2 separate regions of the Homo sapiens genome follow, and region 2 is linked to region 1. The links come from fine-mapping of genetic effects on gene expression. Tissue or cell type: whole blood. Region 1 holds a variant in brackets; the other region holds the start of a gene. All regions are shown on one strand. Distances are between the middles of the regions.

Region 1 (4,350 bases):
CACCCAGTCCTGCCCGGTAGTTATTCAGCGATGAGAGAGTAGGAAGCTTGAGCTCCAGGAGTGTGCCACTTTCCCGGCCCTCCGTGGCTTCCCAGTCCCGGACAGAGACCTGAGCAAGCCGAACCCGGGTGCCTGGCTGCACTGGGCTGGGAAGGAGGACCGGGCGGCCGCAGGCCAGGGAGGGCAATTGGAGAGAGATAGAAGCAGAGGGAGGGGGAGGCAGAGGAGAAGGTACTCGACGATGGACGCGCCCAGGCTGGGGGCGGCGCCCACAGAGCAGAGCCAAGGTCACGAAGCAGAGCGTCTGCGTGCAAACTCCCGGAACTGGATAGGCTAAAACACTAGCTTGTCACCCTTTTAATTCGCTTTTACAGTTTCCGAACTGCCCAATCAAAACCCGAGCCCAGGGTCGCTCGTCACCGGTCTCTGGACAAAAAGCGCTGTTTCAGATTAGAAATCAGGACTTTCCCGTCCTGGTTTCTCTTTCTTCAAAGCCAGCTGCTTTCCGAGAAAGGGGAAGGGCAGGGTTGCTTCCCTCACCCCACCCCATGCAGTGATGAGATCAGCAACTTCCCACTCTCTAGATAAGTGATTCTCAGTGGTTGTTCCAATGAAGTCACTTGGAGTATTTATTAAGAGGCCGAGGGCCAGAGGTCGCAGTCCTCTGCAAGCACACTTAATGTATAAAAAAGCAGCCGGGCGCTGTGACTCACGCCTGTAATCCCAACACTTTGGGAGGCCGAGGTGGGCGGATCACTTGAGGTCAGGAGTTCTACATCAGCCTGGCCAACATGGTGAAACCCCTTCTCTACTAAAAATACAAAGATCAGCTGAGGGTGGTGGCGCGTGCCTGTAATCCCAGCTACTCAGGAGGCTGAGGCAGGAGGATCGCTTGAACCCAGGAGGTGGAGGTTGCAGTGAGCCCAGATCTCGCCACTTCACTCCAGCCTGGGCAACAGAGACTCCGTCCAAAAAAAAGCCTGCATATAATCTGGGCTTACAAGCACCAAGGACATGTAAGAAATGTGTTTTATATTTTTATATTTTTTTATTTTTTTATTTCTTGAGTATTTATTGACCATCTACTACCTCAGGCTCATATACACTGAATTTTCCAGGAATATAACTACCAGGTAACTCAAAGGAAGATGTATGTTGGTTTTTTATTTTTGGAGTTTTACCTAGAGATTTTCGCCATTTTAGAAAATTACACCAGAACCTGCAATACCATACTTGAATCTGAGCCATCAATCCAGCGTGCCTCTCAGTCTTCCATGCCGCTGGTTCACAGAGATCCTAGGCAGTTGCAAGTGTCTGGCACTTCTTTATACCAGCAGTGCAGCCAAGCTAGAGCATTCACAAGCTAAATTACTTAATTTTCATGATCATATTAGTAAAAGAATCACCACAAAACAATTGTTATAAAAAGGGGTTGTTGGGGGAAAGGGAGCTGTTGAATATGATTGGGGTTGAAACCTCTAATCCACACTGCAATCCTGGGGACGGTGCCCACCTCAGTCTGCCAAGCCTGAGCTTGGATACTGAGTTTCTATCCTAGAAATCTGTCAGATAAGGCTCCATTACATAAATGACTTGGTTGCTGCATCGTCACTAGGAACCCTTCATTCTCTTCACCTTTCCTGGCCTCAGTAAAAAAAAAATACACCTTCATTCTGGAAAACCCCTATGCTGCCAGAAAAGAGTTCTACCTGTAGGCCTACCTTTGGAGGAACTGTCCAGAATGAGTCAGGGCCATCTTGTTACTGAAAGCCTTTTAGGGAAAGGGATTCTCCCGTAGTTTCTTCTTTCATCAGATTAGTGCCAAGAAGTTTTCCATTGTACAAAATGAGTATCCTTAATCCAAAAATCTGAAATCCTAAATGCTCCAACATCTCAAACTTTTTGAGCACCAACATGATGCTCAAAGGAAAGGGTCACTGGGGCATTTTGGATTTTAGATTTTCACATTAGAGATGCTCAACTGATAATTAACAAATATTCCAAAAATCAAAAAAAAATCCAAAATTTAAAACACTTCTGGTGCCAGGCTTTTCGGATAAGGGATACTCAACCTGTATCTCCCTGCTGTGGTAATTTGCTCTAATGAGCTGTGAAAATAAAGAACCACTGGAAGTAAAAGCAGTTGCCTGGAGTCTTGCATCTTAGAGAGCCCTTCTCATTGCCATCCCCTTCTCAGAACCACCCTAAAAAGAGTGCCCGGCACAAAGTAGACACTCCATATTTATTTAACAAATGACTAAGTGAATAAATAAGTAAATTTATGATATAGGAATAATTATCCCATTTTATGGATATGGTGACAAAGGGTCAAGTCAGCAATATGACTCTTTTCCAATTTCTTTTGTGGAATTAGGATTCAAACTCAGGTCTGAGTCCAATATCATACACACTGTAATGCTATCCCCTTAGAAACTTTGAACTTGTAATGGAAGTTTGGGGTTGCATGTGTTATGGGCCCAGCAGAGGATGTTGACAGGAAACATGACTCACCCAGATCTGGCTTTATAAGCCAGTCCTCAGCTTTTGCATAGTTTGCTGCTAACAGCTAGCATCTGCAATTACCCTCAGTCCTGCAGATTACCCTCAGACACTGGAGGGAGCC[G/A]GAAGTACCTCGGAGTTTTATGTTTCACCTCGTTCCACAACCCTGGATAGCCAAAGACAGGCTGATGAAGAGCACCAAAGCCCAGCTCCTTTGTGTTGAGGCAGGAAAAACTCTGAGGTGTGTTCTTTGTTCTAAAGCTTCCCGTGTGATCAGGCTGAGTGTAGGACTTCGGAAATCATGCTCTCGCTTGGCTTCTTCCCATTCCCTGTCCTTCATCCCCCACTCCTTTACTGTTCTTTTCCTAGGAGCCCCCCACTTTTTTTTTTTTGAAACAGAGTTTCACTCTTCTTGCCCGGGCTGGAGTGCAATGGCACGGTCTCGAAGAGCCCTTTCTTAACAAGTCATTTGCATCCAAATCTTTGGCTCAGGGCCTGCTTTTGCAAGACTCCACCTAAGACACTCGCTGACTCTTCAGATGATGAAAATGGCATGCACACTTGCAGACAGCTAAGGATTCTGTCTTCGTCTTTCTGTTGCTATAGCAGAATACCTGAGATCAGGTAATATACAAAAAAAAGAGGCCAGGTGAGGTGGCTCATGCCTGTAATCCCATCTTTTTGGGAGGCCGAAGACTGGAGGATCTCTTGAGGCCAGGAGTTTGAGACCAGCCTTGGCAACATAGTAAGAATCTGTCTCTACAAAAAGTTTTTAAAAACTAGCGATGCGGCCGGGCGCAGTGGTTCATGCCTGTAATCCCAGCACTTTGGGAGGCCAAGATGGGTGGATCATGAGGTCAGGAGATCGAGACCATCCTGGCTAACACGGTGAAACCCTGTCTCTACTAAAAATACAAAAAATTAACCTGGCGTGGTGGCAGGCACCTGTAGTCCCAGCTACTTGGGAGGCTGAGGCAGGAGAATGGTGTGAACCCAGGAGGCAGAGGTTGCAGTGAGCCGAGATCGCACCACTGCACTCCAGCCTGGGTGACCTAGCAAGACTCCATCTCAAAAAAAAAAAAAAAAATTAGTGATGCATGGGGGTGTGCATCTGTAAGCCCCGCTACTCAGGATGCTGAAGCAGCAGGATCACTTGAGCCCAAGAGTTTGAGGCTGCAATGGCACAATGGCAGAGCAAGATCCTATCTCAAAAAAAAGAAAGGAAGAAAAATGTATGGAAGAGGCTGAGAAGTTCAACATTGAGGGGCTGTATCTGGTTTGCTTTGGGTGAGGGCTTTGTTCCGCATCATAACATGGGTAAAGATATCAGAGAGGCATCATAACATGGCTAAAGATAAAGATTTAGAGGGGCACAAGAGAAAGAGCGAAACTGGCTTTTATAACAGACCCATTCTCAGGATAACCCATTAATCCATTAATCCATTCATGAAGGAGCCCTCATGACCCAGTCACCTCTTAAATGCCCTACTTCTTAATACTGTTATATTGAGGATTAACTTTCTTTTCTTTGCCTCATTATTTTTTATTTTTTAATTTAATTTATTTTAGATAGATAGATAGATAGATAGATACATAGATACATAGATACATAGATACATAGATAGACAGATATGAGGTCTCACTATATTGCCCAGACTGCTCTTAAACTCCTCCTGGGTTCAAACAATCCTCCTGCCTCCGCCTTCCAAGTAGCTGGGACCACAGGTGTGTGCTACCACACCCAGCTAATTTTTGTTTGTTTGATTTTGTAGAGAGGAGGACTCACTATGTTGCCCAGGCTGGTCTCAAACTCCTGGGCTCATGCGATCCTCCAGTCTCAGCCTCCCAAAA
Region 2 (4,000 bases), 64 kb after region 1:
CAGCATTGACCTCCAGGCTCAAGTGATCCTCCCACCTCAGTCTTCTGAGTAGCTTGGATTATAGGCATGTGACACCACACCCAGCTAATATTAAAAAAAAATTTTTTTTGGCCAGGTGCAGTGGCTCATGCCTGTAATCCCAGCACTCTGGGAGGCCGAGGTGGGCAGATCACCTGAGGGTCGGGAGTTTGAGAACAGCCTGACCAACGTGAAGAAACCGCGTCTCTACTAAAAATACAAAATCAGCCAGGCATGGTGGCACACGCCTGTAATCCCAGCTACTCGGAGGCTGAGGCAGGGGAATCGCTTGAACCCAGGAGGCAGAGGTTAGAGGTTGCAGTGAGCCAAGACTGTGCCATTGCACTCCAGCCTGGACAACAAGAGCAAAACTCTCAAAAAAAATTTTTTTTGATTTTTTTTGTAGAGACAAGGGTCTCCCTATGTTGGCAAGGGTGGGCTCCAGTGATCCTCCCAACTTGGCCTCCCAAAGTGCTGGGATTTACAGGCATGAGAAGACTGTCCTGATTATAAGGGACAAGGCTTTGTTGTAGCTAACACAAGTGTAACCTTAGAAATTGCTTTAACGTTGCCATTTTTTACAGAAAGAACACAGCCCCAGCTAAGCTTAGAAGGTTGAATATATCTCCCTTGTGATAGAAAACGTTTGGTTTCAGCTGGGCACGGTGGCTCACGTCTGTAATCTTAGCACTTCCAGGCTGGGACAGGTAAATCACCGGAGGTCAGGAATTCGAAACCAGCCTGGCCAACATGGTGAAACCCCGTCTCTACTAAAATACAAAAATTTAGCTGGGTGTGGCGTGCGCCTGTAATCCCAGCTACTGGGAAGGCTGAGGCAGAATTGCTTGAGCCCAGGAGGCGGAGGTTGCAGTGAGCCGAGATCCCGCCACTGCACTCCAGCCTGAGTGACAAAGCGAGACTCCATCTCAAAAGAAAAAAAAAGTTTGCTTTTATTTTGACAAATAAGGTCATGCATTGATCAACAAATGCGGGAGTACCTTTCATGAAACATGCACTGTTTTAGGTACTAGCCAGGACAGTGGTGAGCAACAAAGTCCTTGCTCTTTTGAAGTTTACATTCTTATTGGACAGGAACTGGCAGAAAATATCAAGTAGTGATAAATACTATGATTAAAAACAAAACTAGGTGAGAGACTGCAGTAGAAGGGACCTTAGGTTGAATGGCTTGGGGAGGCCTGTCAATAGAGGTTACATTTATGCTGAAATGTTCTGAATGTGGAAGATGTGTTAAGAAGGTACAGTTGTCTTTTAGGAGACTTTACCAAAATACCTATTCAACCCCTCTTCTCACCTCAAACTCTTTGCTCCTCTCCTTCTCTTGATCTTGGATCATACTTCCCTGAGAAAACAGACAGGAGCTCTCTACCATCTCCACCCCTTACTTACCCCGTCTCTCTGACTGTTACAATGGATATTATTTGACTTCAAATTTCGGGTCAACACCCTTACTATGGATCCACACTGTAAGACGGTCCATGCTACCAAGGAAATGGCACCACCCCAGAGCCTGTAAGCGAACAGCACAATAAGAAAAGCGAAGAAAAGAGGCAGGAACTGGGTTCCAAGGGAGCTGGAGGCAGCTGGACCAAGAAGGCAAAGAGCAATGCCACAGAGCGAGAACGGCTGCAACGGCCTGCTACGCTAAGCTAGGCCTTCAAGCATGCCAGAGCAGTTAAGCAGAGTGGGACTGGCGTCAGGGCAGATGTGGCTTTGCTAGAGAGGCTGGTACTGCCCCCCACAGGAAACGAATGGAATCGACCGGAGACAGCCGAGAGGTCTCCGCGGGAGTCACGAGGCCGAGCGGGAGCCGCTACGTACACCGCGCATGCCCACGACGCAGTCAGGTTCCGGCGAAAGTGACCGGAAGTAACCGCCGGGCCAAGATGGCTGCAGAGGAAGGGGTCGCGAGTGCTGCTTCCGCCGGCGGTAGCTGGGGCACCGCGGCCATGGGGCGGGTTCTACCGATGCTGTTGGTGCCAGTCCCCGCCGAGGCGATGGGGCAGCTCGGCTCCCGGGCGCAGCTGCGCACACAGCCGGAGGCTCTGGGGAGCCTGACGGCTGCGGGCAGCCTCCAAGTGCTTTCTTTGACGCCTGGCAGCCGGGGCGGGGGTCGCTGCTGCCTGGAGGGCCCCTTCTGGCAGTAAGTGCTGAGGGAGAGTTGGGCCGTTGGGGGAGTCCAGAGCCTAGGCTCGGCTGACTGAGCCCCAAGGGCTCACGCCGAGGCCTCCCTGCAGCCATAGAGGTGGCGGGAGAAGGGTGCCAGCTGCAGGAAACGCCCCAGAGGCGAGCGTGGTTTCCTCACAGAACCTTTCCCCCGACCTGAAACGCTCGCCTCGTTGCATTCTGGCAGCCCAGCTCTCCTGTTCCGGGTGGGCGGAGACGGCACCCAGCTCCATTGCCACCTGCGGCGAACCCGGAACGGGTCTCAGCTGAGGCGCTGATTCTTTCATTATTCAACACAGGTTGATTAACTGTCACAGGGTCGAGTCCCATGCCCATTTCTTTCAGTTAAAGATGCCAGCTGAGGATCATCTCTAATTTGAATCATCCTGATACTTTTTTCATGTCCTTGAAGTGAATAGCGTTTTCTTTCACATGTAGTCCTCTTCTTCAAGGACAGAGTCCAGTTTGTCCCTTCATTTATTCAGCAAATATTGTGTGCTTGCTGTTACATAGGAGCAGTGCCTAAAAAGTTGAGTAAGACACTTCTTTCTTGCGAGGCGCGCATGTTTGGGGAAGACAAACATGATTACAATAATGCATTACTTTGTACTTCCGTAACTCTTGGTTCAGTACTTAAGAGTTTACATCATAAAGTTTGGGAACGCCCTCTTAGTGTTTTGAGTGGGCTGCTGCTTTTTTTTTTTTTTTTTTTTTTTTAAAGATAAGGTCGCTGTCGCCCAGGCTGGAGTGTAGTGGCTCAGTCACGGTTCACGGCAGCCAGCCTTGACCTCCCGGGCTCAGCCTCCCCAGCAGCTACGACTACAGGCGTGCACCACCAGGCCTGGCTAATTTTTCTAGTTTTTGTAGAGATGAGGTCTCACTGTGTTGCCTAGGCTAGTCTCAAGCTCCTGGGCTCAAGTGATCCCGCCTCTCCCTGCCAAAGTGTTGGGATTACAGGTGTGAGCCACTGAGCCTGACCTGTTCTTTTAATAATTATTAATAGTAAGTATTTTCACAACTCTTTCTTTAAGATGAGTAGCCAAAAGGTGTCTTATTAATCTTGGAATCTCCAGCTCCTCTAACAGCTCCTGACATTTAGAGATTCATTTGATACATCAGTGAATGCTTAACTCTTCTGGGTTTGTCTTCTCTACCCTTGATGTCTAGTTGCTCGAAAGAGGAATCTCTGCGTTTAGTTTATAAACTTATTATAAACTAAGTTATTTATAAACTAGTTTAGGGGAAATTAGTTTATTTAGCAGTATCAAGTACCTATGAATGTGGCTCTGTAAAGAGAGGAATGGGGCAAAGAAAAGCCGAAATCTTTAGGTGTTTGAGAACCCAGCAGGGAAGGTAAGACCGAGATGAAATAAAGGGGGCGTTCATATGCTAGTTCATGAAATTAGAGGGGAGGAGGACCAAGAAAGGACTTTTTAACTTTTTTAGTTGAATTGAATTTTAATTCAGTTAAAATACTTCATAGGTTAAAAATAAGGGCATGTTTATAGTATTTAGAGTTTACTTCCTACTTTTTCAAAGTACATAGGTCTTTTTAATATTGTTGAAATTACATCATATATCTTGTTTATTGCATTGAAAATTTCCTGTCTTTCCATGTGGCAATATTGTCCCTATGCTAATGATGTACTCTACCTTTTAAGTATATCTTAGTTTAACCTTTTGTATATTTGACATTTAGGTTATTTTCTACATTTATCAATATGAACAGTCAGAAAAATGTCTTTTTTTTACCTAATAAGGACATATTAATACTATAATAGTATAAAACTACTATAGT

The links. PIP is the estimated chance that this variant, and not a neighbour inherited with it, causes the effect.
Region 2: SPG11 starts here. The variant in region 1 is fine-mapped to the expression of SPG11 in whole blood (TOPMed, PIP 0.98).

Annotation. Positions count from the first base shown.
Region 1 is chr15:44,724,981-44,729,330 of GRCh38, reverse strand. It overlaps the pseudogene RNF4BP. Among named protein-coding and RNA genes, the nearest start is that of MIR10393, 9.3 kb to the right of the region's middle. RefSeq lists enhancers at 1-434, 435-1,422, 2,446-2,740. The variant G/A (reference allele first, on the strand shown) is at 2,624.
Region 2 is chr15:44,661,570-44,665,569 of GRCh38, reverse strand. SPG11 (SPG11 vesicle trafficking associated, spatacsin) reads left to right here and starts at 1,908. Exons shown (of 40, transcript NM_025137.4): 1 at 1,908-2,179. The coding sequence starts at 1,923. RefSeq lists enhancers at 1,444-1,613, 1,654-2,133, 1,608-2,564, 2,674-2,813.